5 linked regions of the Homo sapiens genome follow. The protein of the gene in region 2 interacts with the protein of the main gene of each other region in a pairwise test. Each region holds a gene or a part of one and is shown on either strand. Other genes may lie near its edges.

The links.
Region 1: the proteins of ANKRD46 (region 2) and TMEM45B interact in binary tests that used the Homo sapiens proteins (3 or more experiments, as listed by UniProt).
Region 3: the proteins of ANKRD46 (region 2) and GOLM1 interact in binary tests that used the Homo sapiens proteins (3 or more experiments, as listed by UniProt).
Region 4: the proteins of ANKRD46 (region 2) and CD22 interact in binary tests that used the Homo sapiens proteins (3 or more experiments, as listed by UniProt).
Region 5: the proteins of ANKRD46 (region 2) and SLC16A2 interact in a two-hybrid assay, tested with the Homo sapiens proteins (one large-scale study listed by BioGRID).

The regions. Positions count from the first base shown.
Region 1 is NC_000011.10:129,850,348-129,853,847, reverse strand, and holds part of TMEM45B (transmembrane protein 45B), read right to left. Parts: intron 3,299-3,500; exon of another isoform or gene 3,244-3,298; intron 2,187-3,243; exon of another isoform or gene 2,056-2,186; intron 1,374-2,055; 5' UTR 1,366-1,373; coding exon 1,188-1,365; intron 1-1,187.
Region 2 is NC_000008.11:100,548,467-100,555,118, forward strand, and holds part of ANKRD46 (ankyrin repeat domain-containing protein 46), read right to left. Parts: intron 3,268-6,652; exon of another isoform or gene 2,074-3,267; intron 1-2,073.
Region 3 is NC_000009.12:86,077,248-86,083,899, forward strand, and holds part of GOLM1 (Golgi membrane protein 1), read right to left. Parts: intron 2,095-6,652; 5' UTR 2,074-2,094; coding exon 1,945-2,073; intron 345-1,944; coding exon 165-344; intron 1-164.
Region 4 is NC_000019.10:35,334,001-35,340,652, forward strand, and holds part of CD22 (B-cell receptor CD22 isoform 1 precursor), read left to right. Parts: intron 1-2,035; coding exon 2,036-2,341; intron 2,342-3,754; coding exon 3,755-4,021; intron 4,022-4,167; coding exon 4,168-4,431; intron 4,432-6,652. UniProt on the Homo sapiens protein: Most highly expressed siglec (sialic acid-binding immunoglobulin-like lectin) on B-cells that plays a role in various aspects of B-cell biology including differentiation, antigen presentation, and trafficking to bone marrow.
Region 5 is NC_000023.11:74,422,604-74,429,255, reverse strand, and holds part of SLC16A2 (monocarboxylate transporter 8), read right to left. Parts: intron 1-6,652. UniProt on the Homo sapiens protein: Specific thyroid hormone transmembrane transporter, that mediates both uptake and efflux of thyroid hormones across the cell membrane independently of pH or a Na(+) gradient.

The sequences.
Region 1 (3,500 bases), on a different chromosome or scaffold from region 2:
GATGACATTTTGGACTCCGTTTCCCAGATACTTGTTTCTCAAGCCAGACCCTTTTTGAATTCCCACACACAGAGTCAGGAAGTTGTGGAAATGACCCAGGAAAAGTCCCAGTGACACTAGAATGGAAGCCCTGTGACAGCAGCGGCTGTGTGGTTCCCCAGTGTATCTCCTATGCCTGGAACAGTGACTTCCTGGCTTGTGGTAGGAGTGCCAGAGAGCTGTTGAATGAGTACCATTTTCACCCAGTCAAGGGGCCAAATATTGTAATTGTCCTAGCTTTATTTAGGCAAGGTTGATGCTGTCCTGATCCTTTAAGCCACAGGTCCCTGTCACTTCTCACGGGAGGCCTCTCTGATGCCTGAATGGTGAGTGGGGACATTCAGCAGGATGAGACCAACAAAGCCCTGTGAAGCTTTGCTTCCTCCAAGAGAAGCGATGTTGCTTCACTCTCTCCAAGAAGCCATAGGCCACTGATGACAAGTGGTAATTGTCAGTTGCAGATTAAGACCCCTCATTCCCCCCAGGTGGGGCTGGTCCTGAGGAAGAACACTTGTTACTGTCATCACTGCTTGTTCCTGGAGGGCCGCAGTGGAGCGGAGTGGATGCGAAGGAAACAGTGGGAGTGGGTGGATCTTGTTGGAATGGGGCAGAGTGAAGGAAAATTCCTCTTCAACAGCCCTCTGCTGCTTTTTCTCTCCCACTGGCTAATTTACGAATCTACATAAACTCTCTATAAGCGCTTGAGACTTGAGGATGAAGATAAGCCAGTGGGTTGGGTGTTAACTACTGTAAGGATCTGGAGGGAGAGACAATTGAGGAAAAAAGGTGATTTTTCTACTTTGTCACAACTAAGGTACGTGAGCCTAATCTATTTTGTTTTTTTCTCTTTTTATTTGTGTCATATCTTTTTCATACAGTGGGTGTTTTGCTCCTACAACTTTCCATACCTGTGTCCTTGTTGATTTGAGTTTTTCACAGTGTCCCATGATGTGAGAGCTGTCAACCGTTAGTATTATAAAGCTCTGTACACAATGGATGTTACGATAAAATAGTCTAGTGGCCATCAGGAAATTGTTGCCCTATTATCTCTGCCAGTGGGAACATCTATTTCACAGGGCTCAGAAAATGAATTAAAGGTTCTGGGTATGATGAGGAGATTCCCTAGACCAAATGACCCCTGCTCTTACCAGTGACGGAAAACAAAGTCCTAATTGCGGCTTCGACGATCTCGAGACGCTGATAGTAATGTAGTGGGCTGTTCTTCCGCGTGTGGCTAAAGTACTTCAGCGGGTACTTCACTGACCAACACAGCCCAATGATCAGGAAGAAACTCCCTGGAAGCGCGTGGCCCTTGAAATTTGCCATCAGGACACCTAAAAAATTAGGGGAAGGCTGTTAGGTGGCTAATGAAGCAAGCAAACAAATGTATATTTTGGCAGGAAACACAATACGTGCCTGAGATTGCAAATCATAAGCCACGTTAAGAAGGATCAACACATTCTCATAAAACAAGCCTTATGTTACGTCACTGAAGTCTCATCTGTAAAGTGAGTTGCATAACCAACTGGACTCCACTGTCTGTAATGCTTTAAACATGTGGGTAAAATAAAAGGATGAGGGTGGGGAAAGAGGAGGATAGGTAATATTTATTGATCTCAGATAGAGAAAACTTCCAAGCCATAAACATAAAGGGGGGAACTAGAAAAGAAAAACGTTCAGCTATATAAGCATCTTTTAATATCAAGAACATCAAAAGGTAAACAACAAATCAGAAACATGCTTGTAGCAGTTGGCTATTACATTAGAGTCTTTACAAATTGATAAGAAAAAGACCGTAGAAGAATAGGCAGAAGACATGAACGGATGATTCACAAAATAATACAAACAAATTATAAATCTCCCGGAAATTAGAGATGGGCAAACGAAAGCACAACATCATTTTTCACCCAACTGGAAAATAATTTTATAAAGTTTTGGTGTGGTGGTCTAGTACAAATGAACCTGGTCAATATGATTCACAGTTTGTAAAAATCAGCATAACGATGTAAACATCACCTTATTCCAAAAATTTTCAGGCATGATTTGCTGTTATCCCATTTGCAGTAGCATGAAACTATAGCTAGGATTTATTCAGAAGTAGATTGATTATTTTCCCCACTGGCCTGGGTGGTTACCTAAAGAATATGTAGGGTGGGAGAAAAATACCAGTTGTTGGTGATTGCTGTGGTTTGAATGTGTCCCCTCCAAAATCCAGGTGTTGCCAAGGTGATAGCATTAAGAGAAGGGGACTTTTTTTTTTTTTTTGAGGCAGAGTTTCACTCTGTCACCCAGGCTGGAGTGCAGTGGCACGATCTTGGCTCACTACAACCTCTGCCTCCCAGGTTCAAGCGATTCTCCTGCCTCAGCCTCCCGAGTAGCTGGAATTACAGGCACCCGCCACCACGCCTGGCTAATTTTTATATTTTTAGTAGAGACGGGGTTTCACCATGTTGGCCAGGCTTTTCTCGAACTCCTGACCTTAGGTGATCTGCCCACCTCGGCCTCCCAAAGTGCTGGGATTACAGGTGTGAGCCACCACACCCGGCCGAGAAGAGGACTTTTAAGAAGGGACTAGGCCATGAGGGCCCCTCCCTCCTGAACTAGGAGCAGATGCCCTCCCTCATACAGGGGTTGGCTGGAGGGAGCTGGTCCCCTGTTTGTCCTCCTGCATGTGAGGATGCAGCCCTCAGCAGACACCAGATGCTGCTGCCTTGATCTTGGACTTCCCAGCTTTCAGAACAGTGAGAAATAAATTGTTGTTCTTTATAAATTACCCAGTCTGCGTATTGTGTGATATCAGCACAACAGGGACTAAGACAGAAATTGGTACCAGAGGAGTTTATAACATTTATAACCAGGGGTTATAACAAATATGTAAAAATGTGGGGGTGGCTTTGGAACTGGATAATGAATACAAGCTGGAACAGCTTTGAAGTGAGTGCTGAAAAAAGCCTGGATTGCCATGAACGGAGCACTAAGGATGATTCTGGTGAGGGCTCAGAAGAAGAGGAGAGCTGTAGATGTGGGATATGAGCTGTGGGGAAAGCCTCGTTCTTAGAGATTGCCTAAGTGGTCATGAACAGAATGTTGATAGAGATACCGATGGTGAAGGCAATTCTGATGAGGTCTCAGACAGAAATAAAGAACAAGGTATTGGAAACTAGAAGAAAGGTTATCCTTGTTAGAAAGTGGTAAAGAACTTACCTGAATTATGTCGTTTCCTAGGACTTCATGGAGGGCAGAACTTAAGAATGATGACCTAGGATATTTGGCAGAAGAGATAGAAAGCAAAGTGTTCAGGATGCTGTGTGGCTTCTCTTAACTGCTTATAGAAAAACATGAGAGGCCAGGTGCGGTGGCTCACGCCTGTAATCCCAGCACTTTGGGAGGGCGAGGCAGGCAGATCACCTGAGGTCAGGAGTTCGAGATAAGCCTGACAAACATGGTGAAACCCTGTCTCT
Region 2 (6,652 bases):
GTTCGTGTTCTTATTATAATCTATAATTTTCTTATTTATGTGCTTAATCATGTATTGTACATCTCCTCAGTTTGAAAGTAAACTTTGAGGGCATGAGTTGTCTTGTTCCACACTATCCACAGTATTTCGCATTACCTATTACACACTAAGTGCTCAACCTGTATCTTTTCTGTTAAGTGAATGGATGGTCCAAACGTAAAGTATGCATTCAAACAAGTCTTTCAGTGGAGTCTGGAAGTCAGTATAAATGCTTAAGTAATGACAATGAAAATGAAGGCATTCACTGAAGGTGGACAAAAAATATAACTAAACTAAAAATGTATAGCAAAAATGGGGTACCAATAAAACTGATATTACATTTAAAAAGAAATCAAATCACGTTCATATGACTACTTCTTGAACATCTTTTAATGTCTGAGAAATAGGAATATTTAGAAATAATAAACATTTGTTGACTCCTCCCATAAGCAGGTACATATTAGATAGAAATGCAATATGATATACACCTATTATGTATCCACAAAGATTTTTAGAAATAAGAAATTTTTTTAATTAAAAAAATTTTAAAGATTTACCCAGAAATGAAAAAAAAAAGTAATTTGGGTATTTCACACTTATTTTATATAATATGGAATACTAGCATTAATGCTGTTTTTTTTTTTTTTAGTTCAGAATTTTTTTTTAAAACATATGGGGTCTCACTATGTTGCCCAGGCTGGCCTCAAACTCCTGGGCTCAAGTGATCCTCCTGCCTTAGCCTCCCAAAGTGCTAGGACTACAGGCGTGAGCCACTGTGCCCAGCCTGGAATGTTTTAACAAGTTAAATGTTCAACACATTTGAAGTAAAAAATAACATTTCAGAACATTAAAAACTCATAAACTTATAAAAATACAAGTGTTAAGCATACATTGCCATTCTAATATAAATCAGGGAAAAAAGTGAAACATTTTAAAAGAAACCATATAAAAATGAGGAAAATTTAAATAATCACCAAAAAATTGAGAATTCTGATTTCTTCAAAAGCATAATTTTGCATAAAAATTGCATTACTAGTATCACAACTGAGCTGTGAGCATATTTTTTATTACTTTATCTTTTTTAAAACGGTCTTTATTTTTTAGACCAGTTTTAGGTTCACAGCAACACTGAGCAGATTTCCCATATTCCCCCACCCTGCCACCACCAGAGGGTACCTCTGTTATAACTGATGATCCTACACTAACACATCATTATCACCCAGAGTCCATAGTTTGCATTAGGGTTCACTCTTGGTGTTATACATTCTATGGGTTTAGACAAATTTACAATGACATGTATTCATCATTATAGCATCAGGCAGATTAGGTTCACTGCCCTAAAAATTTTCTGGGCTCTGCCTATTCATCCCTCTCTCTACCCAACCCCTGATATTTTTATTGTCTCTATAATTTTGCCTTTTCCAGAATGTCATATAACTGAAATCATACGGTATGCAGCTGTTTCAGATTGGCTTCTTTCCCTCATAATACGTGTTTTCTGTATCTTCTCATGGCTTCATAGTTTCTCTTTAGGACTGCATAATATGTCATTCTCTGTATGTATTACAGTTTATCTGTTCACCTACTGAAGGACATCTTGGTTGCTTCCATGTTCTGGCAATTATGAATAAGGCTGACATGAACACCCACATGCAGGTTTTTGTGTGGACAGTTTTTCACTCCTTTGGGTAAATACCAAGGAGCATGATTGCTGGATGGTAAGAGTATGTTTAGTTTTTTTAAGAAACCACCAAATTGTCTCCCAAAGTAGCTGTACCATTTGGCATTCCCACTAGCAATGAATAAGAGTTCCTGTTAATCCACATTCTCACCAGCATTTGGTGTTGTCAGCGTTCTAGATTTTAGTTAGCCATTTTAGTAAGTGTGTAGTGGGATCTCATTGTTTTAATTTGCATTTCCCTGATGACATATGACGTGGAGCATCTTTTTCATATGTTTATTTGCCATCTGTATATCCTCTGTGATGAGGTGTCCATTAAGATCTTTGGCTCATTTTTAAAATCAGGTTGTTCATTTTCTATCTTTTTTTTTTTTTTGAGTACAGAGGACTTTATTGATGGTACACGACAAGATAGAGCTCTTTGTGGGGTCTGCATGGAAACTGTGAAGAGGGGAGATTCCCAGTGTGGTGGGGGACTGAGCATGGCAGGGACTGCCCAGAAGCTGAAGGTCTCTTTCTTCCTCTTGTGCTCTCACTGGGGCTGGTTGTCGAGCAGTCTTACTCCTTGGAGGCCATATGGGCCACCACCCTGTTGCTGTAGCCAAATTCACTGTTGTACGAGGAAATGAGCTTGACAAAGTGGTCACTGAGGGCAATGGCAGCCCCAGCATCGAAAGTGGAAGAGTGAGTGTCACTGTTAAAGTCAGAGGAAACAACCTGGTGTTCAGTGTAGCCCAAGATGCCCTTGAGGGGCCCTCTGACGCCTGCTTCACCACCTTTTTGATGTCATCATATTTGGCAGGTTTCTCCAGATGGCAGGTCAGGTCCACAACCAACACGTTTGCAGAAGGACACGGAAGGCCATGCTAGTGAGCTTCCTGTTCAGCTCGGGGATGGCCTTGCCCACAGCCTTGGCAACACCAGTAGATGCAGGGATGATGTTCTGGAGAGCCCCACAGACATATGCCACAGTTTCCCACAGAGGCCATCGAGTCTTCTGGGCAGGAGTGGCAGCATGGATTGTGGTCACAAGTCCTTCCACAATGCCAAAGTTGTCATGGATGGGCTTGGCCGGGGGATTAAGCAGTTGGTGGTACAGAAGGCATTGCTGATGATCTTGAGGCTGTTTTCAGACTTCTCAGGGATCATGCCCATTATGAATATGGGGGCATCAGCAGAGGGGGTAGAGATGATGACCCTTTTGGCTCCCCCATTAAGTGAGCCCCAGCCTTCTCTATGGTCATGAAGATGCCAGTGGACTCCACGGCATACTCAGCTTCAGCATCACCCCATTTGATTTTGGTAGGATCTTGCTCCTGGAAGATGGTGATGGGATTTCCATTGATGACAAGCTTCCCATTCTCAGCCTTGACGGTGTGGTGGAATTTGCCATGGGTAGAAATACTGGAACATGCAGACCATGTAGTTGAGGTCAATGAAGGGTCATTGATGGTGACAATATCCACTTTACTAGAGTTAAAAGCAGCCCTGGTGACCAGGTGCCCAATATGGCCCAAATCTATTTACTCTGGCCTTCACCTTCACCATGATGTCTTAGAGACATGGCTTTGAGAAGAGGATGGTCAGCACTGAGTGACCTCAGCCAGCACCCATACCCACCTCTCTTTTTGTTGAGTTTTAAGAGTTCTTTGTGTATTTTGGATAACAGTCTTCATCATATATGTCTTTTGAAAACATTTTGGGCTGGGTGCTGTGGCTCACACCTATAATCCCAGCACTTTGGGAGGCCAAGGTGGGCGGATCACCTGAGGTCAGGAGTTCAAGACCAGCCTGGCCAACATGGTGAAACCCCGTCTCTACTAAAAATACAAAAATTAGCCAGGTGTGGTGGTGTGCACCTGTAGTCCCAGGTACTCGGGAGGCTGAGGCAGGAGAATAGCTTGAACCTGGGAGGTGGAGGTTGCAGTGAGCCAAGATCGCGCCACTGCACTCCAGCCTGGGTGACAGAGTGAGACTCTGTCTTAAAAAAAAAAAAAAAAAAAAAGAAATGTGTTATTTAATGTCTAAGTATTCAGTGATTTTCCGGCTATCTTTCTGTTATCAAATTGTAATTTAATTCCTTTTCGTCTGAGATCAGATATTGGATGATTTCCATTTTGGCCAATTCCAAAACAGCTACAGCCTCACTCATTACTTTGTGCTTGTACTCTATAGAGATGGTTATCCTATTTACTATTCTGACTATACTTTGGCGCTTTTTTTTTTTTAACATCAGTTATTGCCAGGTGCCCAAACATGAATTTAATATATTATTTTGACTGAAAATCAACTATGTGTTTTTAATTTCCTCAGATGTCCCCTGTCTACCTAGACTCCATTCCTACCTGTTCCACTGGTACCCAACTCCACTACTCTTCACTGCTCATATGCTTTGGAGGGGTCAGTCTTTATTATCTAAGGCCATGTAACATATCACATTCCCTAGCTATTGTGGTTTATTTAAAGGTGAGCAAGTGACCAGTCCAATAAAACTCTTTGCTTGGAATGCCAGAGAAATACATTCACTTTATTTTTCTATGGTGTATAAATGAGATACCTAAAATTGCTTTTGTCATTTTTATATTTCATAGATAGCAAGTATACAGAGTGAGGCAGAACAGATAAAAGGGTCAAGCCTTGGGCTTTTCCTATTACGGGTATCAATAAAGGATCTTTTTAAGACAGTTTAAATTAGGTTTTCTGTTACTTAGAACAAAATATCTAAATGACACAGAATCTGAAGTGGTCATTACTATTTGATTTCCACTCTTATATGCTTCTGTCATTGCTTCCTAAAAAGGAAAAAAATATGGTTTGTGGCACATGTTTCAGCAAAAGACAAAGGTCAAAGGGTGAAGTGCACTGATATTTAACTCTCTTTGAGAAGGAGCTGAATCCAGGCCTAAGAAATCTCATGTTCAGCACAGGAGATTGAACACTGACTGAGAGCTTGGTAAATTCTAGAACTGACCAAGGAGATAACCGAAAAACAAGTTGAAAGGATATTCTGAATAAACAAGTGAAATAAAAATAAGCCTATTGTGGGAAAACTTTTATAAGCAATCCACAGTTTTTGTTGTGTTTAAAAAAAATCAGCATTAACAGCCAATGGGCAAAATACAGCCAAAAGACTGAGGAGAGGGCAGAGGGGCAGATTTAAATTAACGTAGCAGCAATGCTGGGCTACTGGAAAAAAGATGACTGATAGTAGGACTAAAACTGCCACCAAAGTTAAAATGCCTATATAAACTGTTTCAACAAAGTCACACTCAGAATATTTTTGTTTTTTTAATTAAACTTACGCAGGCTGGGTGTGGTGGCTCATGCCTGTAATCCTAGCACTTTGGGAGGCCACAGCAGATCACTTGAGGTCAGGAGTTTGAGACCAGCCTGGCCAATATAGTGAAACCCCGTCTCCACTAAAAATACAAAAATTAGCTGGGTGTGATGGCATGTACCTGTAGTCGCAGCTACTTGGGAGGCTGAGACAGGAGAATCGCTTCAACCCAGGAGGCGGAAGCTACAGTGAGCTGAGGTTGCACCACTGCACTCCAGCCTGGGAGACAGAGCAAAACTCCATCTCAAAAACAAACAAACAAAAACCAAAAAAACTCAGGCAAACCAAAAAAGGCATCATAATGTAATAAAAGAAAATATAGGTTATTTGGCTAGTTTTAATATGTTTACTTTAAAAAATAAAATACAGCAGAGTATCTAATGTCATCAAGACCCAATATGGAAAGGTAGCTAAATAAACCATTCGTGCTCTTGCATTTGTTTCTGATTTACTTGGTACCATACCTAAATAATAATGTGCACAAATCTTTTAATTGATTGTATTCAGAATTTATTAAAAGCACCACTTATTGGATAGTTTATTAAATGCATGCAAGTATCTGTATATGATTTCTTCAGCATATGTGTGTTTAAGGCAACATGAGAGAGAGCCAGAGACAGGAAAGCTGTCCATTTTAAAATCAAATTGGTGTATATCTCCTGCTTATTCAACATGTTTTGGTCTTGGAATTGTTTCTCTAATAATGTACTGGCAAGTCAGACGTTAAATTATTTAAGGTTTCTAAACACTGATTTGGTGGAAGTGCTAACAATCCTTGTGAACAAAGATAAGCTTCAGAAAAACTGAACAGCACTAAAAAAAAGTATCTACTTTGGAAAATAATGATCCTTTGTAATTGATTTTGGTTTTAGATATAAAGTTTACATTGGTAATTCTAATGTCTGTTTACCAGTTTAATTTTAAAAAGTACTTGGCTGGGTGCAGTGACTCACACCTATAGTCCCAGCACTTTAGGGAATCTGGAGCAAGAGGATCACTTGAGCCTAAGGATTCCAGACCAGCCTGGGCAACATAGTGTGAAACCCCATCTCTACAAAAAAAATTTAAAAATAAACCTTGCATGGTGGTGCGTGCGTGCCTGTTGTCCCAGATATTCAAGGCTGAGGCAGGAGGATCACTCGAGCCTGGGAGGTGGAGGGTGCATTCAGCCATGATTGTGCCACTGCACTCCAGCCTGAGCAACAGAGCAAAACCCTGTCTCAAAAAAACACAAGGAAAAAAAAAGTACTTAGCCAGGTGCAGTGGCTCATGCCTGTAATCTCAGCAGTTTGAGAGGCTGAGGTGGATCACTTGAGGTCAGGAGTTAGAGACCAGCCTGGCCAACATGATGAAACCCCATCTCCACTAAAAATACAAAAATTAGCTGTGTGTGGTGGTGTGTGCCTGTGGTCCCAGCTACTCAGGAGGCTGAGGCAGGAGAATCGTTTGATGCAGTGAGCCAAGATTGTGCCACTGCACTCCAGCCTGGGTGATAGAGTGAGACTCCATCTCCAAAAAAAAAAAAAAAGTACTTATCACAGAGACATAACCATAAACTTAAGTTCTAATAGTACTGAAAGTTATTTTAAATAGAAATCTTTTACAAACATCACAAT
Region 3 (6,652 bases), on a different chromosome or scaffold from region 2:
GGAGGGGAAAGGGAGAGAATGCCCAAAGCTTGATCAATAGGCTCTTTCCACATAATTACATAAATCTAAACCCAGCCGCTTGCTCATCCTCCCGCCAAGAAGAAACAGACAATGTAGACACCATCCCTTAGAAAAGAACTGAGAGGAAACAAAGCAGGCCTTGCCTTTTCGTCCTGGTACAGCTTGTTGACGCTCTCCAGCTGGAAGTTGTGGCTGGACTGGATTTTGTCAAGCTGCTCCCGCTGCTTCTCCAGCTCTCCCTGGAACTCGTTCTTCTTCAGCTCCACGGCGCCTCTCTCTGCAGCCGCCCTGCGGACCCTGCCTTCCAGCTCCATGATCCGTGTCTACAAGGAGACCGTGGCATTAGGGCTGATGCCAAGTTACCTGAGGAGCCTGGACCACCTGAGCGCCCTCCACAAAGACCACCTTGGGGCCCAGGGCCAGCACCAGTCTTATACACACAAGTGCCCAAGGCTGTGTTTTAAGTCAACTGGACAGAAGCTGGAGCGGTTTCTTCTGGAAAAAATGGTCTCTGTCAGTGTAAGTGAAGGAAGGCTCTGTGCACTCACACCACACTTCCCACTGGGTTTTTGTGAGGCTTAAATGTGCTAAGTGCACAGAATGCCTCATGCTTTACCTGGCATAAGATGATGCTCAAATATTTAGTTCTTCTTCGCTGCTAACAAAGCACTTAACAACTCTTTAGCAGATACAATTTCTGAAAACAGATTCAGTTCTCCAACTCCAGACAAGCAGACCTCATCTGCCCAGAGAACAGGAACTCCCGTGGAAGCTGAGACACAGGGAGTACAAGCCCAGGAGGGTAAGTGTGAGAACAGGACAGAGCACAGACGTGCTGGGGTGCCACGGCTAAGCCCATGCAGGTTGGAATCCCTGCTCCACCTCAACCTCTTGGTGCCTCAGTCTGACCCCCTGTGAAATGAGGAAAGTCAAGTCCCAGCCTTGTAGGGTTTGTGCACAAAAGGAGATAATTTGTATAAAGTACTGTGAAAGAGAAATTATTCTGACATTCATTAAAATGGTAAGAAAGACTATTCAAAACGATTGCAATAGGAGAGGGAAATTGTGCTCAATGCCGAACACATCAAAGACAGCTAGGGATTTATAGCCAACGAGCACAGTGCGGGGAGTCAGTGGATGGAAATCGCCCCCAGAGTAGGGGGATTCTTGCTAAACTGGCCTAACAAGATTCTTGCTAAACACAGGCCAAGGACTTAGACAGCAAGGGTAGGGATGAGGAACTTGGTCAAGGATCAGGGGTAGAAGGATGGCTTAGCGGGATCCTTTGCTAGGACTGGGCTGGGCAGGCCAAAGACAGGCAGTGAGAGTTGGGAGGTGCCAAGATCAAGGCCTAGTCAAGAAGACGGCTCAGAAGGGCCCGACTCAAGTTCAATCAAGAGGAGCATCTTTGTCACTGCTCAGCACTGCACCTGACCCATGACTGCACCGGTAAATGAGGAAGTTAAAATTATTATTATCATTAAGTAATGAAGATAAAGATTGGTACCTTTAAAAACATATTTCTTACACCCATCATCCAAGCACACTTCCAATACTACTCTTCGATATCTTGGGCGCCGGAGGACCGCAAACAACGGACTATGGCCAGTGTATGTAAGCAAGCTGTCTTCCCAGAACCACCCCAGTAGCTCAAATGAATGCTGTTAACTCACAGGAAAGGCAGGGAGGGATACCACAACCGCAATCCTACACAACCACAGAGGGGACCTCTCCCACCCAAAGCTGCTTGGGGTCTGGCCCAGGGCTGTGGGGGTGTGCAGAGCCCTAAACTCACCTTACAAGCGTGTGCCCTGCACAAAACGCCCTGGCTGGCAATAAACAACAAACCCCTGGGACCCCATCATAACAAAATAAACAAAACATAAACATAAAATAAACATAACAATAAAGAAAACAAAACACCTGGAGGTCCACGCTCCGGGAGCTCGCAATCCAGTAGTTGAAGCCCAAGACGATGATGCAGGCCACCAGGGCGGCCAGCACGAGGGGCGGCGACTTCATGCTGCGACGCCCGTTTCCCAAGCCCATCATCTCAAAATCAGCGCTGAGAATCTGCCAAGTAAAAGCAAATAAATAAACATCAATACTAGTTTTATCATCTCCGAAGCAGACCGTATCATCCTTACAACCAAGAGGAAAGGAGTCTTGCCAAGAAGCGTGGGCTGGTAGCTTCTCCTTGACGTGCAAAGCTGTCAAGGGAGAAGAGTATGTGAACGGCACGCACAGAGCCCATGGTGCTGTGAACCCAGGGCAGTGTGGCCAGTTCCCAGGACAGGCTCGGAGGAGCAGGCACCGCCCCGAAACCTGCCACAGATTAGCTCGAGACCTGGGGCAAGACATGATTCCTCTTACACTTCAGATTCCTCCCTTGTAAAATCATTACCATACTCACCTTCCCGGCATAGTTTGAGAATTAATCATTTCTGTAAGCAGCAATGTTTGAGAAGTAATCATTTCTGTAAACACCAATAACAAATATTAAGTGCTTCCGCATCATATTAGAAAGAGTATATTCCTCATTACTCCTCAGAGAGAGCTTTTTGCTTTGATTCCTAACAAGGGAGGTTTTTTTTACCCTTGACAGGATTACTAATGACACCCAATTAAAGCATTTCTCAAGCAAAGCAGGAAACCCATTCTGGAGGTGAATGTGAACTCCCCCCCATGTACATCATTATTCAGGCACAGCCCTGGCTATAGAAGTGTCTCCTCCTTCATGACACACAACGGAAGTGGGAGGTGTGCCATCTGCCTGAAGTCACCAGGAAAAATGTGTTCCATCTTAGGATTTGAGGTGGAAACAAGGCATTCACTCCATGCCAAACGAGAGCACCTTCTTTCGAACATTCATTTCTCACTTTAGGGACCGTATCTGTGCAACTGCTGCATTGTACACCTCATGTTAGGAAAAACAGTGCCTCTGTGTGAGAGCTACAGAGTGCACAAAAATACAGCTTAGAAGAAAGATGCCATAAATTTTGTTAATGGGCTTCAATTCAAAGCCAGGTCTGCCTGGATGCAAGCACTGGTCTCTAGGAACAAGGAAAGTAGACTTTTCCAAATGGCTTTTCCCAAGCCAGATAAAACAGAACCTTATCAGAGTGAGCGTGGCTGCACTGCAACAAACAGCCTTTGAGCACAGAGAGCCTTTTACACCAGGGGTGTCTAGCAACAGAGGAGGAAAGGGGATGGTGGGCAAAAAAGACAAGGGACGGGTAAGGAAGAGGATACCACCAAGGATTCACCTGCAAAACCCAATTCTCACCAGTGAGAACATGGGAGAACTGATCCTCACCCTATGGTCTTTTCAGGTGGGTCACCAAAAGGCTTCTTTTTTCTTAACAGCTAGCTACTAGTATGGGGGCCTGCCAGGGGATAAAGAAGCAATCTAGCCGAATCATCTAAAATAAAGCACCCCCAGAATTCCCACGGGTGGAAATTCTGACCTGTGCTCATGTCTTACCAGCTTCTGGCCTCTCAGGATGAAAGGGGAAACCACGTTTTTCTTTCAATTATCAGCTGATATCAGCAAGCACTGAATATACTCAAGAGACTCTTGATCACAAGAGTCTCTTTTTTGACTCTTAAACTTTTTAAAATTTTTGTTTATTTATTTTAGAGACAGGGTCTCTGTCGCCCAGGGTGGAGTCAGTCACGCAATTGTGGCTCACTGAAGCCTCAAACTCTTGGGCTCAAATAATCCTCCTGCCCTCAACCTCTCAAGTAGCTGGGACTACAGACATGGGCCACCATGCCCAGCTAATTTTTTAAAACAATTTTTGTACAGACAGGGTCTCACTATTGCCTAGGTTGGCCTCAAATTCCTGACCTCAAGTGATCCTCCCATCTGGGCCCCTCAAAGTACTGGGATTACAGGTATGAGCCAGTGCACCCAGCCTCAATGATTTTTTTTTTTTTTTTTTTGAGACGGAGTTTCGCTCTTGTTTTCCAGGCTGGAGTGCAATGGTGTGATCTCAGCTCACTACAACCTCTGCCTCCCGGGTTAAAGCGATTCTCCTGCCTCAGCTTCCCGAGTAGCTGGGATTACAGGCATGCACCACCACGGCCAGCTAATTTTGTATTTTTAGTAGAGACGGGGTTTCTCCATGTTGGTCAGGCTGGTCTGGAACTCCCAACCTCAGGTGATCCGTCTGCCTCGTTCTCCCAAAGTGCTGGGAATATAGGCATGAGCCACCGTGCCCAGCTAACCTTGTTTTTAAAATATAAAAGTACAAATACAAGAGGGGGTGGCAGGGACTTTTCCAAATGGCTTTTGCTAAGGAAAAAATAGGAAACTACACACAGTAGAGTATAAATTGGTCGGGTGCAGTGGCTCATGCCTGTAATCCCAGCACTTTGGGAGGCCAAGGCAGGTAGATGGCCTGAAGTCAGGAATTTGAGACCAGCCTGGCCAACGTGGTGAAACTCCATCTCTACTAAAAATACAAAAGCAGCCAGGCATGGTGGCACATGCCTGTAGTCCCAGCTACTCAAGAGGCTGAGACAGGAGAAAAGCTTGAACCCATGAGGCGGAGCTTGCAGTGAGCCAAGATGACACCACTGCACTCCAGCCTGGGCGACAGAGCGAGACTCTGATTAAAAAAAAAAAAGAAAAAAGGATAAATTACATCCCCCTCATCCTACTCCAAAGGAAAGGGATAACATTTTCTAACATCTGGGTCCTTCTGTTCCAGTGGTCCTCAACACTCAAGGGGCATCAGCATCACCTGGGACACTTTTTTTTTTTTTTTTTTTTTGAGATGGAGTCTCTCTCTGTTGCCCAGGCTGGAGTGCAGTGGCGTGATCTAGGTTCACTGCAAGCTCCGCCTCCCAGGTTCATGCCATTCTCCTGCCTCAGCCTCCCGAGTAGCTGGGACTACAGGCACCTGCCACCACACCTGGCTAATTTTTTGTAGTTTTAGTAGAGACGAAGTTCCCCCATTAGCCAGGATGGTCTTGATCTCCTGACCTTGTGATCCGCCCGCCTCGGCCTCCCAAAGTGCTGGGATTACAGGCATGAGCCACCGTGCCCAGCCTGACACTTTTTAAAATATCAATACCTGGGCTCCACCACTGCATTTCTTTTCTTTCCTTTTTTTTTTTTCTTGAGACAGGGTCTCACTCTGTTGCTCAGGCTGACACACTCACTCTGTCACCCAGGCTGAAATAGCTGCCTAGTGGTGTGATCCCAGCCTCAACTCCTGGGCTCAAGTGATCCTCCCACCTCAGCTTCCCCAACTTCCTGGGCTCAAGTGATCCTCCCACTTCAGCTTCCCAAGTAGCTGGGACTACAGGTGTGTGCCACCACGCCCAGCTAATTTTTTCTATTTTTGTAGAGATGGGGTCTCACTATGTTGCTCAAGCTGGTCTCAAACTCCTGGGCTCAGTGATCCTCCCGCCTCAGCCTCCTAAAGTGCTGGGAGTACAGGCGTGAGCCATCACACCTGGCCCCCAGCCCTGCATTTCTAATTCAATGGGGTTTAGGGCAAGGCCCGGATATTTGTATTTTTTAACCTCCCCAGGTGATTCATATGTATAGCCGCTATTCTAGATGTTTCTAGATGCATATATAAGCATCAATATATTTATTTTAATCCAAACAAGATCACACCATTCACACTCTTCTGTAAATGCTGTGTATTTCTTAGTAACACATCTTGCCTCCCCTTTTTTAGTAGCACATTATGGTTTGCTCCATTCTTTTCAAAGGGCTGAATAGGGCACCACTGTGTGCCAAGATCTGCTTAACTGATCTCCTACAGAGAAACAGTCAAGGTTTTCCAGGCTTATTTCCAACAATGCTACCATAAACAACCTTACACAGCTGTCCCTCAGTATTCACTGGGGATTGGTTCCAGGACCCCCTGAGGACACCAAAAGCCAAGGATGTTCAAGTCTCTTATATAAAATGGCATACTATGTGAATCCAACCCAGGCACATCCTCCTCTAGGCTTTAAACCATGTCTAGATTACTTATAATACTTAGTACAATATAAATGCTATGTAATTAGCTGTTAAGCCATATGTTTAGGAACTAATCACAAAAAAGTCTATACATGTTCAGTACAGATGCAACCACAGTAGGCCTAACTAATTTTTGTTTGTTTTTCTGAGATGGGAGTCTTGCTCTGTCACCCAGGCTAGAGTGCAGTGGCACGAACTTGGCTCACTGCAACCTCCGACTCCCAGGTTCAAAGGATTCTCCCATCTCAGCCTCCTGAGTAGCTGGGATTAGAGGTGGCCACCACCACACCCAGCTAGTTTTTTTTGTACTTTTAGTAGAGACAGTGTTTCACTATGTTGGCCAGGCTGGTCTCGAATTCTCGGCCTCAAGTGATCTGCCTGCCTCGGCCTCCCAAAGTGCTGGGATTATGGGCATGAGCCACCATGCCCAGCCAGGCTTAAGTACATTTTGAACAGCTAGTTTAATCTGCAGATGTGGAACTGTACATCCATCTCTGTGTTTACGAACTCTTACCTATGTGTACAGTCCCTTATTCACAACTTTGAAATCCAAAACGGTCTCTAAAAACTCAGAGAAAGTTTTAAAAACTTTTCCAGCAACAAAACCTGAACTGAGATCAAGGTCTGATCAGAACTTATCTGAAG
Region 4 (6,652 bases), on a different chromosome or scaffold from region 2:
GTAGTCAGCCAAACACTGACACCTCAGTGCTTAGAAGCTGAGATAGGATTATTTAATTTAGCCAAAGCAAGGGGACAGAAGAGAGAAACTCTCAAATCTGACCTGACTTTGAGCGTTAGTGGGGGCTTTTATGAGTAAAGTAGGTGTGCAGGAGGTGACCTCCCGATCGTCAAAGCTGTTGTGCCCCTCGGCTCATCAAATTTCTGGATGTCATCAAGGAGGTCTGTGTGACCTAAGGATCATTGTTCTTTGAAAGAGAGACAAGTTCATTTATCTTGCAGGCAGCTGCCAGGGAGTCAGGATGTAAGTTAAACAATTATGAGTGAATTAATGGTTACCTGCTACTGAAATGACCAAATGTAACTAATCATGCATGGAGGAAGGAAAGGACAAAGAGAAAAGAAAAGAAGTAAAACGAACATCTTATAATTTTTATAACATAGGTTCAGTTATAGCACTGCACATGTAGGGGTGGCTTTGACCCATCAAACACAGGTGTGGGGGGCCCCTGCCACAGGGAGTGTGGTCACTCCGTTCCACACCGTTTCCCGGATGGGCAGTTCTGAGCAGCCTTAAATTTGGGGTGAGCAATGCAACTTCAGACCCCGCTGTCTGAAGGAGGTGGTCCAGCCTTGGGGAGAGCTGAGGCTGGGTGCACACAGACCCACTCCACTAAAGGAATGCGGTGCGTGGATGGCTGCAATACTGAAGGAAGCCATGAAAGTAACACAAGTTTGTCAAAGCTGAAAAGTCCGTGAACTAAACTGATAAAATTCACTTAGAGGTGGTGGGAATAGGCCGGGCACGGTGGCTCACGCCTGTAATCCCAGAACTTTGGGAGGCCGAGGCAGGCGGATCACAAGGTCAGGAGATCGAGACCATCCTGACTAACACAGTGAAACCCTGTCTCTACTAAAAATGCAAAAAGTTAGCCAGGCGTGGTGGCAGGCGCCTGTAGTCCCAGCTACTCAGGAGGCTGAGGCAGGAGAATGGCGTGAACCCGGAAGGTGGAGCTTGCAGTGAGCTGAGATCACGCCACTACACTCCAGTCCGGGCGACAGAGCGAGACTCTGTCTCAAAAAAAAAAAAAAAAAAAAAAGAGGTGGTGAGGTGGTGGGAATAGAACTTTGCAATCATTCAGAAAGCAGACATCCGGCAATGAGCATGAAAGAAAAGTAGATCACAGTTCCCAAGGAGGCTTAGTGTGGTCAAGGCCTTTCAGAGGGGATTTCGGGTGAGCAAAAGTGATTCAAAGTGGAGAAAAGCAGGACTGCGTTGGGTGCAGTGGTTCCCGCCTGTAACCCCAGCACTTTGGGAGGCTGAGATCGGAGGATCGTTTGAGCCCAGGAGTTTGAGACCAGCCTGGGTAACATGGCAAGACCCTGTCTCTACAAAATGTTTAAAAAACTAGCTAGGTGTGGTGGCACATGCCTGTAGTCCCAGTTACTCAGGGGGCTGAGGTGAGAGGATTGCTTGAGCCTAGGAGGTTGAGGCTACAGTGAGCTAGGATTGCGCCACTGCACTCCAGCCTGGGTGACAAAGCAAGACCCTGTCTCTAAAGAAAAAAAGAGGCCGGGTGTGGTGGCTTACACCTGTAATCCCAGCACTTTGGGAGGCCAAGGCGGGAGGATCACTTGAGGTCAGGAGTTCAAGACCAGCCTGGCCAACATGGCGAAACCCTGTCTCTACTAGAAATACAGAAAAATTAGCTGGGTGTGGTGGTGGGCACCTGTAATCCCAGCTACTCGGGAGGCTGAGGCAGGAGGATCACTTGAACTGGGGAGGTAGAGGTTACAGCGAGCCAAGATCGCGCCACTGCACTCCAGCCTGGGTGACAGAGGGAAACTCCATCTCAAAAAAACAACAACACAACAACAACAACAATAACAACAAAAAAACAAAGCAGGACTGGAGAGAGGTGGAATGAAGTGGCAAGGGGTTCCTGAGGGGTGATTTGGGACAGGACATCTAAAGCCAGGTGTACGCTCACGTCCTCAGTCCCCCAGGCTCCTGCACGGGCTCTGTTCTTTTGCAGAAAGGCCTTTTCCACCTCATATCCAGCTCCCTCCAGAAATTCAAGAGTCCCAGGAAGTCACTCTGACCTGCTTGCTGAATTTCTCCTGCTATGGGTATCCGATCCAATTGCAGTGGCTCCTAGAGGGGGTTCCAATGAGGCAGGCTGCTGTCACCTCGACCTCCTTGACCATCAAGTCTGTCTTCACCCGGAGCGAGCTCAAGTTCTCCCCACAGTGGAGTCACCATGGGAAGATTGTGACCTGCCAGCTTCAGGATGCAGATGGGAAGTTCCTCTCCAATGACACGGTGCAGCTGAACGTGAAGCGTGAGTCTCCCCGGCATGCCTGTGGGAAGGGCAAGGTCTGTGTCACCTTCTCCCCAGCCCCGCAGGGGGCATGCACCCAGGGCAGGGGGAAGCCTGCACAGACGGCGGCATCCTCCAGCCCTGGTCACGCCGCCTTGTCAGCCCTGGTGTTTCGGGAAAAAGATTTGCTCTAGCCTAACAGAATAAAATGGTCCATCCTCAAGCCATGACATGAATTGGGGATTATCTGGTTAGGTCTTTTTGTTCCCCTCTTGGTGGGGATTTTTTTCGCATCATTATCTTGTGCCTCATTCATTCAATAAATACGTATCATGAACCTACTAGGTACCAGGCCTTATTACGGCTGCCAATGGGGGGCATGGGGCGGTGGGCAGGGTGCAGCAGTGAGCAAAACTCTTGCCCCACGCGGAGCCAGCGCTGCAGTGAAAGAGACAGACAACAAATGGATTACCAAAGAAATACAGAGCATGAGCCAAGACATTAGAATCTGGAACAAAGCAATGTTAACAAAGAAATATACAACACTATTGTAGGTAGTGATATGTGTGTTAGGAAAAAAATAAGGCCGAGAGAGGGGAGTGATGGAGAGAGACCTCTCTAAGAAGGTGAGCACTTAGGCCGGGTGCGGTGGCTCACGCCTGTAATCCTAGCACTTTGGAAGGCCGAGGCGGGGGGATCACAAGGTCAGGAGATCGAGACCATCCTGGCTAACATGGTGAAACCCCATCTCTAGTAAAAATACAAAAAATTAGCCAGGCATGATGGCAGGCGCCTGTAGTCCCAGCTACTTGGGAGGCCAAGGCAGGAGAATGACATGAACCCAGGAGGCGGAGCTTGCAGTGAGCTGAGATCGCACCACTGCACTCCAACCTGGGTGACGAGTGAGACTCCATCTCAAAAAAAGAAAAAAAAAGAAGGTGAGCACTTAAGCTGACTGGAACGGAGGGAGTGGCTGAGGCCGGCACATATTTGGGAGAGGAGGATTTCAGGGAAAGAGAAGGGCAGGTTCAAAGCTTTGAGGCAGCAGCTGGGTGGGAGGACCTCAGAGGCTGAAGTTCACCGCCTCTGAGGGCCACATGGTAGGACAGGAGGCAGGAGATGGAGCAGGACTCTGGATCCCGAGGGCTGAGGTGAGGGTTTGGGATTCTATGCAAAGCACAGAACCCGCTCGTGGTTTCCAGCAGGATTGGCGAGGTCTGGTAGATGGTGTTAGGAACCCTGCGTGCTGCTGGTGGAGACCAAGAAGTAGAGGAAGTGGGAGGGGGAAGCTGAGAGCCGAGTTAGGAGGCTGTGACCATCACCTGGGTGAAGGGACTGGCAGGCCATGGCTTTGTCAGAATAAAAGCACTTTCCACACCCTCCACCCTCTGAGGATTCCCCGCCCCCTCCCCGACTGCCCCTCTGCTCCTCCAGACACCCCGAAGTTGGAGATCAAGGTCACTCCCAGTGATGCCATAGTGAGGGAGGGGGACTCTGTGACCATGACCTGCGAGGTCAGCAGCAGCAACCCGGAGTACACGACGGTATCCTGGCTCAAGGATGGGACCTCGCTGAAGAAGCAGAATACATTCACGCTAAACCTGCGCGAAGTGACCAAGGACCAGAGTGGGAAGTACTGCTGTCAGGTCTCCAATGACGTGGGCCCGGGAAGGTCGGAAGAAGTGTTCCTGCAAGTGCAGTGTGAGCCCCTCGGAGCTGGGGACAGGCCAGGCAGGGAGGTAGCAGGGGTGGACCCGGAGAGGGGAGCCACGGGGGCTCTCGGGGCCGTGTGCACAGGTTGGGGGTGCTCTCCTCACCCCTCCACTCGCCTCTGCCCCCTCTTCCAGATGCCCCGGAACCTTCCACGGTTCAGATCCTCCACTCACCGGCTGTGGAGGGAAGTCAAGTCGAGTTTCTTTGCATGTCACTGGCCAATCCTCTTCCAACAAATTACACGTGGTACCACAATGGGAAAGAAATGCAGGGAAGGACAGAGGAGAAAGTCCACATCCCAAAGATCCTCCCCTGGCACGCTGGGACTTATTCCTGTGTGGCAGAAAACATTCTTGGTACTGGACAGAGGGGCCCGGGAGCTGAGCTGGATGTCCAGTGTGAGTAGCCACGGAGCCTCTGGTTCTAGGGAGAGAAGATGGACACAGGGAACGGGGAAGGCAGATGGGGTGCAGGGCATTCCGGGGTCCTGGAGTCAAGAGCAAGGAGCAGCCAGGGTCTCCTGTTCACAACTGCTGTCTCAGCTCCTAGCATAGGGCCTGGCTCATGGAGGGTGCTTGGTAGATGCTTGTTTTTTTGTGTTTTAGTTTTTTTTGAGATGGAGTCTCCCTCTGTCTCCCAGGCTGGAGTGCAGTGGCACAATCTCGGCTCACTGCAAGCTCCACCTTCCCGGGTTCATGCCATTCTCCTGTCTCAGCCTCCTGAGTAGCTGGGATGACAGGCGCCCGCCACCACGCCCGGCTAATTATTTGTACTTTTAGTAGAGACGGGGTTTCACCGTGTTAGCCAGGATGGTCTCGATCTCCTGACCTCGTGATCCACCCGCCTCGGCCTCCCAAAGTGCTGGGATTAGAGGCGTGAGCCACCGCACCCGGCCTGTAGATGCTTGTTGAATGAATGAGGCCAGGTGCGGTGGCTCCCGCCTGCAATCCCAGCTCTTTAGGAGGCTGAGGCAGGAGGGTCTCTTGAACCCAGGAGTTTGAAACCAGCCTGGGCCACACAGCGAGATACCATCTCTACAAAAAAATACAAAAATTAGCTGAGCATGGTGGTGCGTGCCTGTGGTCCCAGCTACTGGGGAGGCTGAGGAGGGAGAATCACTTGAGCCCAGGAAGTGAAGGCTGCAGACTGAACTATGTTCCTGCTACTGCACTCTAGCCTGGGTGACAGAGCAAGACCTGGGTCTCAAAAAGAAAAAGAAAATGCTGGGACTGGGATTATAGGTGTGAGCTGGGCACAGTGGCTCACACTTGTAATCCCAGCACTTTGGGAGGCCAAGGTAGGCAGCTCACTTGAGGCCACGAGTTCAAGCCCAGCCTGGGCAACATGGTAAAACCCCATCTCTACAAAAAAAAATTAGCCTGGCATGGTCATGCATGCCTGTAGTCTCAGCTACCCAGGAGGCTGAGGTGGGAGGATCACCTGAGCCTGGAAGTAGAGGCTGCAGTGAGCCTGTGATCATGCCGCTGCACTCCAGCCTGGGTGACTGAGTGAGACCTTGTCTCAAAAAAAAGAATGGATTGGCCAGGCATGGTGGCTTACGCCTGTAATCCCAGCACTTTGGGAGGCCAAGGTGGGCAGATCACCTGAGGTCAGGAGTTCGAGACCAGCCTGGCCAACATGGCGAAACCCTGTCTCTACTAAAAATACAAAAAATTAGCCGGGCATGGTGGCAGGCACCTGAAATCCACCTACCTGGGAGGCTGAGGCAGGAGAATCGCTTGAACCCAGGAGGCAGAGGTTGCAATGAGCTGAGATCATGTCACTGCACTCTAGCCTGGGTAGAGTGAGATTCTGTCTCCAAAAAAAAAGAATAATTAACTGCAAGATACCAGGACTCCATGAGGGACACAGAGACTTAGCGTCCCTAGGCAGTGGCTGAGTCTTGAGAGATCTTGAAATTTTTAATGAGAACTGGGGCAAACTGTCTCATTACCTCTCCATTGTAAGACCCTTTTAACACAGTGAATCTTGTTACCATGTAGAGCACAGGACAAAAAGAACACATAAGCTCGATCCTTGGACCCTGAGATGTCATATGTGCTAACAGGACAGGGGTGCCCAAATCCTGAGCATCTCAGACAGCTGGATGCGTGACCACAGCAGCCACAGTGATGTTTGTGGAGTGTTTGCCACACGCCACACTCTGCTCTAAGGGAGTCATCTCATTTCCTTCTTGAAACAATTCCCAGGAGGTTAGGAACTCTCAGGACTCACCCCCCACCCACCCCGCACTGCCTCTTGTTTTTAAGATGGAGTCTCCCTCTGTTGCCCAGGCTGGAGTGCAGTGGCTTGATCTCGGCTCACTGCAACCTCCACCTCCCGGGTTCAAGCGATTCTCTTGCCTCGACCACCTGAGTAGCTGGGACTACAGACATGCACCAGCATGCATAGCTAATTTTTAAAATTTTTAGTAGAGACAGGGTTTTGCTGTGTTGGCCAGGTCTCGAACTCCTGACCTCAGGTGATCTGCCCACCTCAGCCTCCCAAAGTGCTGAAATTACAAGCGTGAGCCACCATGCCCGGCCTCAGGACCCCATTTGACAGACGTGTAAACTGAGACCTGCAGCCCATGCCCGTGCGCCTCTCAGCAGCCGTCTG
Region 5 (6,652 bases), on a different chromosome or scaffold from region 2:
GCTCAAGTGATCCTCCTGCCTCAGCCTCCCAAAATGCTGGGATTACAGGCTTGAGCCACTGGGCCTGGCCTATTTTTTTCTTTTTCTTTCTTTTTGTTTTTGAGACAGGTGCAGTGGTGATCATGGCTCACTGTAGCCTCAACCTCCTGGGCTGGAGCAATCTTCCTGTAAAGGCACTTTTGACTCTCGTTAGGACTTGAGTGTCTGTCTTCTCCCTTCTCTGACCCCTCTACAACCAATTGTGCAGCAGTTTTGGCAAGAAAATAGATGTCAGGGGCTCAAAATAGAATGAACCAGAAACACGGAAGCTACCAAAAACCAGTATGAAATCTCTGGAAGTTCAGCTGGCCCAGGAGATGGGGGACAATGATAGTCAGGATTTGAAAAGAAAGGAATACAAGTAATGACGACATTTGTTGAATATTATTGAGTAAGACTTTCTACAATACTACCTTCTGAGCTGGGTTACTAGGGCTGTGGAAAGAGGTGTAGAAGTGACAAAAAGGGTGTCATAGCAGCTATCTTTATGCGAAAATCCAGAGGTGATGGCTTCCACACTCTTGAGTGCTCCATCGAAAGTCACCCTTCACCCAGAAAGTGGAAAGTAAGAGAGGAAAGGAAGGGGAAAGGGGGAAGGGAGGCCTCTGTAGGATGTGTAGGAGTGGGCCTGTGACTCTGGCAGGAGTTGGGCCTATACAACATCCCAAACCCCAATTGTTCCTCTAACTGAGCAGTAGGAAGAAAAAGAAAAGAGGGAACAATACTGGGAAAAAAGGGTATGGCACATATAGCAAACGTGATAAAAAATGCACTGTGAAAGTAGGAGAAGCTGAGAAAATATGTGATTGGGACAGCCAATTTCATCCCTTCTCCCACCAATGCTGGAAACTGGAGCGAAGTTGAGGATAAAAGAGGGTGAGACTCCTAGGGTGAAGAGGCTGCACTTCCTCAAGCCACCCAAACAGGCCACATTCCCCATCCACAAGGAGGTGTCAAGCGATTTCACATTATCTACCATAGCACCCAGCTTCAGGCAGGTGATGAAATCTCTCTAGGTTTAGTCTTCTGTCACCCCTAAAGCCAGAGAGAGCTGGGGTTGCCTAAACCCGCTTCCCAGTAATATTTGAATACTGGGAGAGATACAGGAGGATGAAGGGAGAAAGAGACTTGCAATAAAGTTTCCCAGCCCCACTGCTGGGGAGTTGCAAATGGGTCCAGTTCAAGAGGTACAATCCAGGCTGGCCATACTCTTTTCATCACTCTCGCCTAGCAAGCTTCTTAGTCTGGTTCCTTTGCACTAGTACAGCATAATCTTTACAGAAGCCTCTGGTACACCTAATTCCATGAACAGATGGGAAATGACTTATTTCAGATGGAATATTCATAATCTATGGCTTAGGGTGTAGGGTATGGGTGTGTGTGTGTGTGTGTGTGTGTGTGTGTGCGCGCGCGTGCACGCGTGCGCATGCGCTTGCGCACATGTGTATATGTGTAGAACAAAGCCTTTTCTCTAGGGTTCATTCATTCAATCTCAAGTGAGACAACACCTTTCAAGACAGGAAATCCCACTCCGTCATTCACACAATCTGAAAAGAGTAGTTTTCATCTTTTCAAAATGCAACAAAACCATAAAATGAGGCTGGTGGGAAAAGCAGTGCATCTTCCTGGGAAACTGGTCTGCTCAAAAGGTTGATATGGCATCCTTTATATACTTCTACAAATGTTGACAGTCCAGCTGCTTGTTTACTCTTCATGGGCTGGAGGCAATACGGCCAATGACTTCCAAGGAAAAGGAAAGAGAGCTCTGTGCCTGCTACTTCCGTAGGCACACTCTCAGCTAAGCCCTGACGCTGCAGTTGACCAGGGATTGTGGGCATCTAATGGGCCTTCTCCAGGATCACAGTAGCAACCCTCCCCAACCCCACCACAGCAGGATCCAGGCAGTGGCCCTGAGCCAGCTATCAAAACGCCCTGTTTGAAGACCTCTGAAGGGAACCTCATTTAGGAATCCGTTTCCTCTGCTAGCTGGAAGTAACAGCAAACCAAGGTCACACTGACTATGCATTTCTGAGAAATAAGACTGTGCTGTGGGAAATTCAGTTTCAGAAGAGGGGTCCAAACTGAGGCTTGAGGAAATGTTTATAATTTAATACTTTTGAGGAACAGGTTCAAACGCTGGAAAACAGCAGCATACAGACCCACCCTGCTTGCCTGCCAAATCCAGGGAGTTCTCTTGGAGACCCAGCTCTATACCAATCAGGACACTCTGGAAGAAGCAGCTCCACATGCAGGGTTGCCCTTACATACTAGGTAAAAAGGATTGGGTAATTTTTAAACACATCTATACCCATGGGCAGCCCCATAGTCTTTAAATACAAATGACGTGGGGAAATGATGTATATAGGGCTTTTCCTTGCTTTCCCAATCTTCTCCCAATCCATCCTCACTGTCATTCAGGCAGCTTAACGAACTTTTATTTACTTAAATGAGTCAAAATGTATGACATATGAATAGTAAAGAATAAGATATCACATAATTTTAGAAGGATAGAATGGTAGGGCTAGAAAGTTTATTTAGTCAAACCCTCTCATTTTATAGATAGATAAACTGACATACAGAGAGGTGAAGTGCCTGTCCAAAGTCACAGAATAAGTTAGGGGCACAAGTTGTCTAAGTCACAGTTACTGCCTAGCTGGTATCACTGAGACTGCCAGCTTTGGGGAGTCCAGATTTGGCCCTGGGTCTTGCTTTTTTAGACTTAGAATGAGCATTTGAGGCCACTGTACAGTGATCCAGGCATCCAGCCTCAACCAGCTACCCCAACTCAAACAAGCATCCTCCTGGTTGGCCTCCAAATGACCCAATCTCTTATTCTCATCCCTTTCAGTATCAGTCATGGTCATAGTTCAAGATCCCATTTGGTTGGAAAGGGGGCAGGGGAATGACGTGAGAGATGCCTGGCCAAGGGCTGTGTGGCTTGAAGCACCACAGCAGGCGCTAAGCCAACCTGATCTAGCTCTGCTGGACAGTAGTCAAGAGCCTTCAGCTGAAGTCAAGAGATTGGCAGATTTGCTCAAAATACACTTTGCTCCCAAAGTCAGCAATTTAGTGTTACAGTCCAGTGAGACACTGAACCAAGCAATGAAAACCCCTAAGGTGAGAAGGAGAAAGACAGCCTACTCTACCTGGCCCCACCCAACCTTGGGACTCTTGGTTCACCCAAAGGCAGAGTGTATCATTCTTCCCCATGCCTAGAAAATTCTGTTTCCATCAGAGTGGACCATCAGCCTGAACTATCTTGTGCCTAGTAGTGAACCTTCCTGACCATTGTCCCTTTCTCTGGTGATGAGAGCCTCAGCCTTGACCCCCCTTGGGAGCTTACAAGGACCATGCTTATAAACTGCCCAGTAAAACAAAAATGCCTTCCATATTTTTTGGCTCAATGGTGGACCGGCAGTCAAGTTTTACTCTGGAGTACTTTTAAAAAGACTTAAGCATAGAGCCAATGTTAGCAACTCTGGCTTGTTCTGCCTTGTCCTCTGAACTCCCAACCCTAACCCTATTGCAGGTCCAACTCACTTAGGGTCCCAATATTGAGCTGGGGCCTACAATCAATGGCGTCTTGCTTCTCTTTCCCCTCTTTCCTCCAAAAGGCTTCCCTACCACCCCAAGAAGCTATGCTTGGGCCTTTACTTTCCACAGAATTGCCTGGTTGCCTCCTGTCCTGTCTGCTGTTTGGTCTGGGTTGGGGAACTCACAAATTTCCCATGATCTTGGCAAGAAATACAGGCTCATTTCCCTCCTGATCTTTTTCCTTTTTTCACTAAACCAGAGTTTGATCACTTGCCTCCCTCTCAGGGACCTTTTGCCTGCCAATCCACCCAAGCCTAGGACCCAGGGAAAGTTGGCTTTCCTCCAAAACTGGTGAAGAGAGGGGATAAGATATACAGCTGGTGACACCACAAAACTGTATACATCAAAGGGTCCACAAAAACTGCACATTGCATGCTCTAGTAAGGCCTGAATCCCATATCCCTTCTAACTTCTGTGGCTTTTTCCCATGCCCAGAGGCACTCTGATGTGGAGCTGTTCCTCAAACATCAAAACTACCTTTCTTCCCAGCTACTTGGGAGGCTGAGGCAGTAGGACTGCTGGAGGCCAGGAGTTTGAGACCAGCCTGGGCAACATAGCAAGAGTCTGTTTTTAAATAAATAAATAAATAAATAAAAATTAGCCAGGTGTGGTGGCGCATGCCTGTAGTTCTAGCTACTTGAGAAGCTGAGGTGGGACGATTGCTTGTGCCCAGGAGTTTGAAGGTGTCGTGAAATATGACTGCGCCACTGCACTCCAACCTGGTCAACAGAGCAAGATCCCATCTCTAAAAATAAAGTATAAGAAACTACCTTTCTGTGGGGCTTCCTCACAACAATCCCAATCATCTGCAGGACCTTCCACCCATTAAGCCACTCAACACAGCTTTAGGTCTGTGAAGATATTAGGCCTAGTCAAAGAGAAATTGGGTTACGAGGTGCCTCCAAACACCAAATTCATAGACTCTTAGAGATGGAAGTCATGTCAGATATTAATAAAAATGGACGATGCACCAAATTCCTTGAGCGTGGGGGTGTACATTCTGTTTCTCCCAGAATGGCTATTGGACAAATACTGGCTGATAAAAATGACACAAACTTCTATTAGCTTCTTCTATCCCTTTGAGACACCAGTGCTGTGGCACAGACGGCTGGGAAATTTTGAGTAAACAGCAGAAAGTGTCTGCAGGCAAAGACATTCAGAATCTCAGGATCTGAATGGTTGCTTGGGAAAGTTGAAGAGCTCAGCAAAGGTAGTACTGAGGATGAGATTTTCTAGGAGCTCCATGTGATAGGGTGTTCCTGACTTTTCCAAAATAAAAACTGTGGTGTCCCTAAGAACCTCTAGTATAAAAAATAATGTCAGTGAGTTCAAGATACACCACAGCAAGGACCCAAGCCAAAGTATTCTGAGACCCTAGGGACATACCAAATTCCTTTCTGTTTCTTCCTGACCTATACTCACTATAATTTAAACCAGTGACCTCAGCCCCTCAGTGAACCTGGTCTGTGTCAGAGTATGCACTAGCCACACCTCTGCATAGCCAACTGCACCCCCACCACCACCCCCACCCTCTAGCTGCACTGTGAGGTCTTGACCGGAAAGTCCCAGCCAGCCCTCCCCCTGAGTCCCCTATGATCACCTACTTTGAAGTCTGTTCCCCAGCAGTGAGCCTCTTCCTGGTAAAATAGTGGTTTTTCCAAGTTTTATTATACACTCCTAAGATCACAGCTCTAGGCCTCCTCACACCATATAAATGCCAGGGCCTAGCTTCAGCCTAGCCTCTACTGCTTCTCATCAAGTTTCACTCAGACTTTGCCACTCACTGATCCTGAAGGCCAACAGCCTGCCTTCAACCACAGGGCAATGCTCAGCAGGTGCCCTTGGAGGTAACCTAGGCAACAGCATGAGTCCCTACACTGCCTGCTTTCCCAGGAGCCCCTGAACTGCATCAAAGCAGGGAAAAAGGTGGTCCCAGGGGTGACTGTGGCAGCCATCTTCCCCGCAGAAGTTGCTCTACACTGTCCCAGGACCCCTCCATTCCAGCATCACAGTGGGCCTGGGTAGTCAAGAGACTTCCTTTGACAACCACTGACGCACTATCTTCATCGGGGCCTGCACACCGCTGCTGTGCCAATGGATCACAAGGTCTGAGGCACCAAGATCCCCAAAGCCCCTTCTGCCAGGGAAGTCCAGCAAAGCTGCAAACTAAAACCACAAGTCCTGGAGAGGGCCCAGGGAATCCACAGGTGGACACTCCAGAATTCAAGGTTTCTATGTTCACTTAATAATTCCCAGGTCCCCTCAAATGGCAGTAGAAATATGTGGGGGTTGGAGGTTGGCGAGAGGATGGAACTCCTCAGTCCGAGGGCAACACTGCGAAAAGCCACATATTCTGAGTTGTGAACTTGGGGCTGGTGGCAAGAGTCGAGCTGTCCTGAGGAGCCACGAGAGGGAGCAAGCCTTGCCAGAGAGGGCATCCCAATCCCCCGTCTTCGTCTGAATCCCTCACCAGAACTGCTGAGGGATTTCGCCAGCGGCTTTGCTGGGAAAGCGAGATGGTTCCTCTGACTTCTCCCAGCTCACAGGCGGCCTCAATGAGAAGAGCGCACACGCCTGGGGTCTTGCGTCCACTGGCCTGGAAAGCGAGGGCTATGCCCCCCAACTCTGTCTGAGATCAAGTCAGCTCCAGGGGAAAGCTGGAATGGCGGGTCTGGCACTCAGGCTGTAGGCCGAACGAGGCACCCCACCGGTAGCAGAGAGGCGCGGGTTGCCGGGGAAGGCAGGGCTGAAGTTGGGGGCGGTGCGGAGTGAGCAGCAGGGCCCAGCCTGCCTGCGGCCTCACGCCTCTCTGGCAGGAGACTGCGGAGACCGCCTCCCCGCCCGCTCTGGGGCTCGGCTCATAGGGCACGGAGATCCATTCACTCCCGCGGGGCGGCAGAGGACTGCCGGGCCCAGCTGGGCCGTAACGGCGGCGGCCAGAGACGCACTCACACCCCGACTCGAACTCCCTCCCTCCCTTTCTCTCTTGCAGACACGCACGCCTGCCATGTGTTTGACT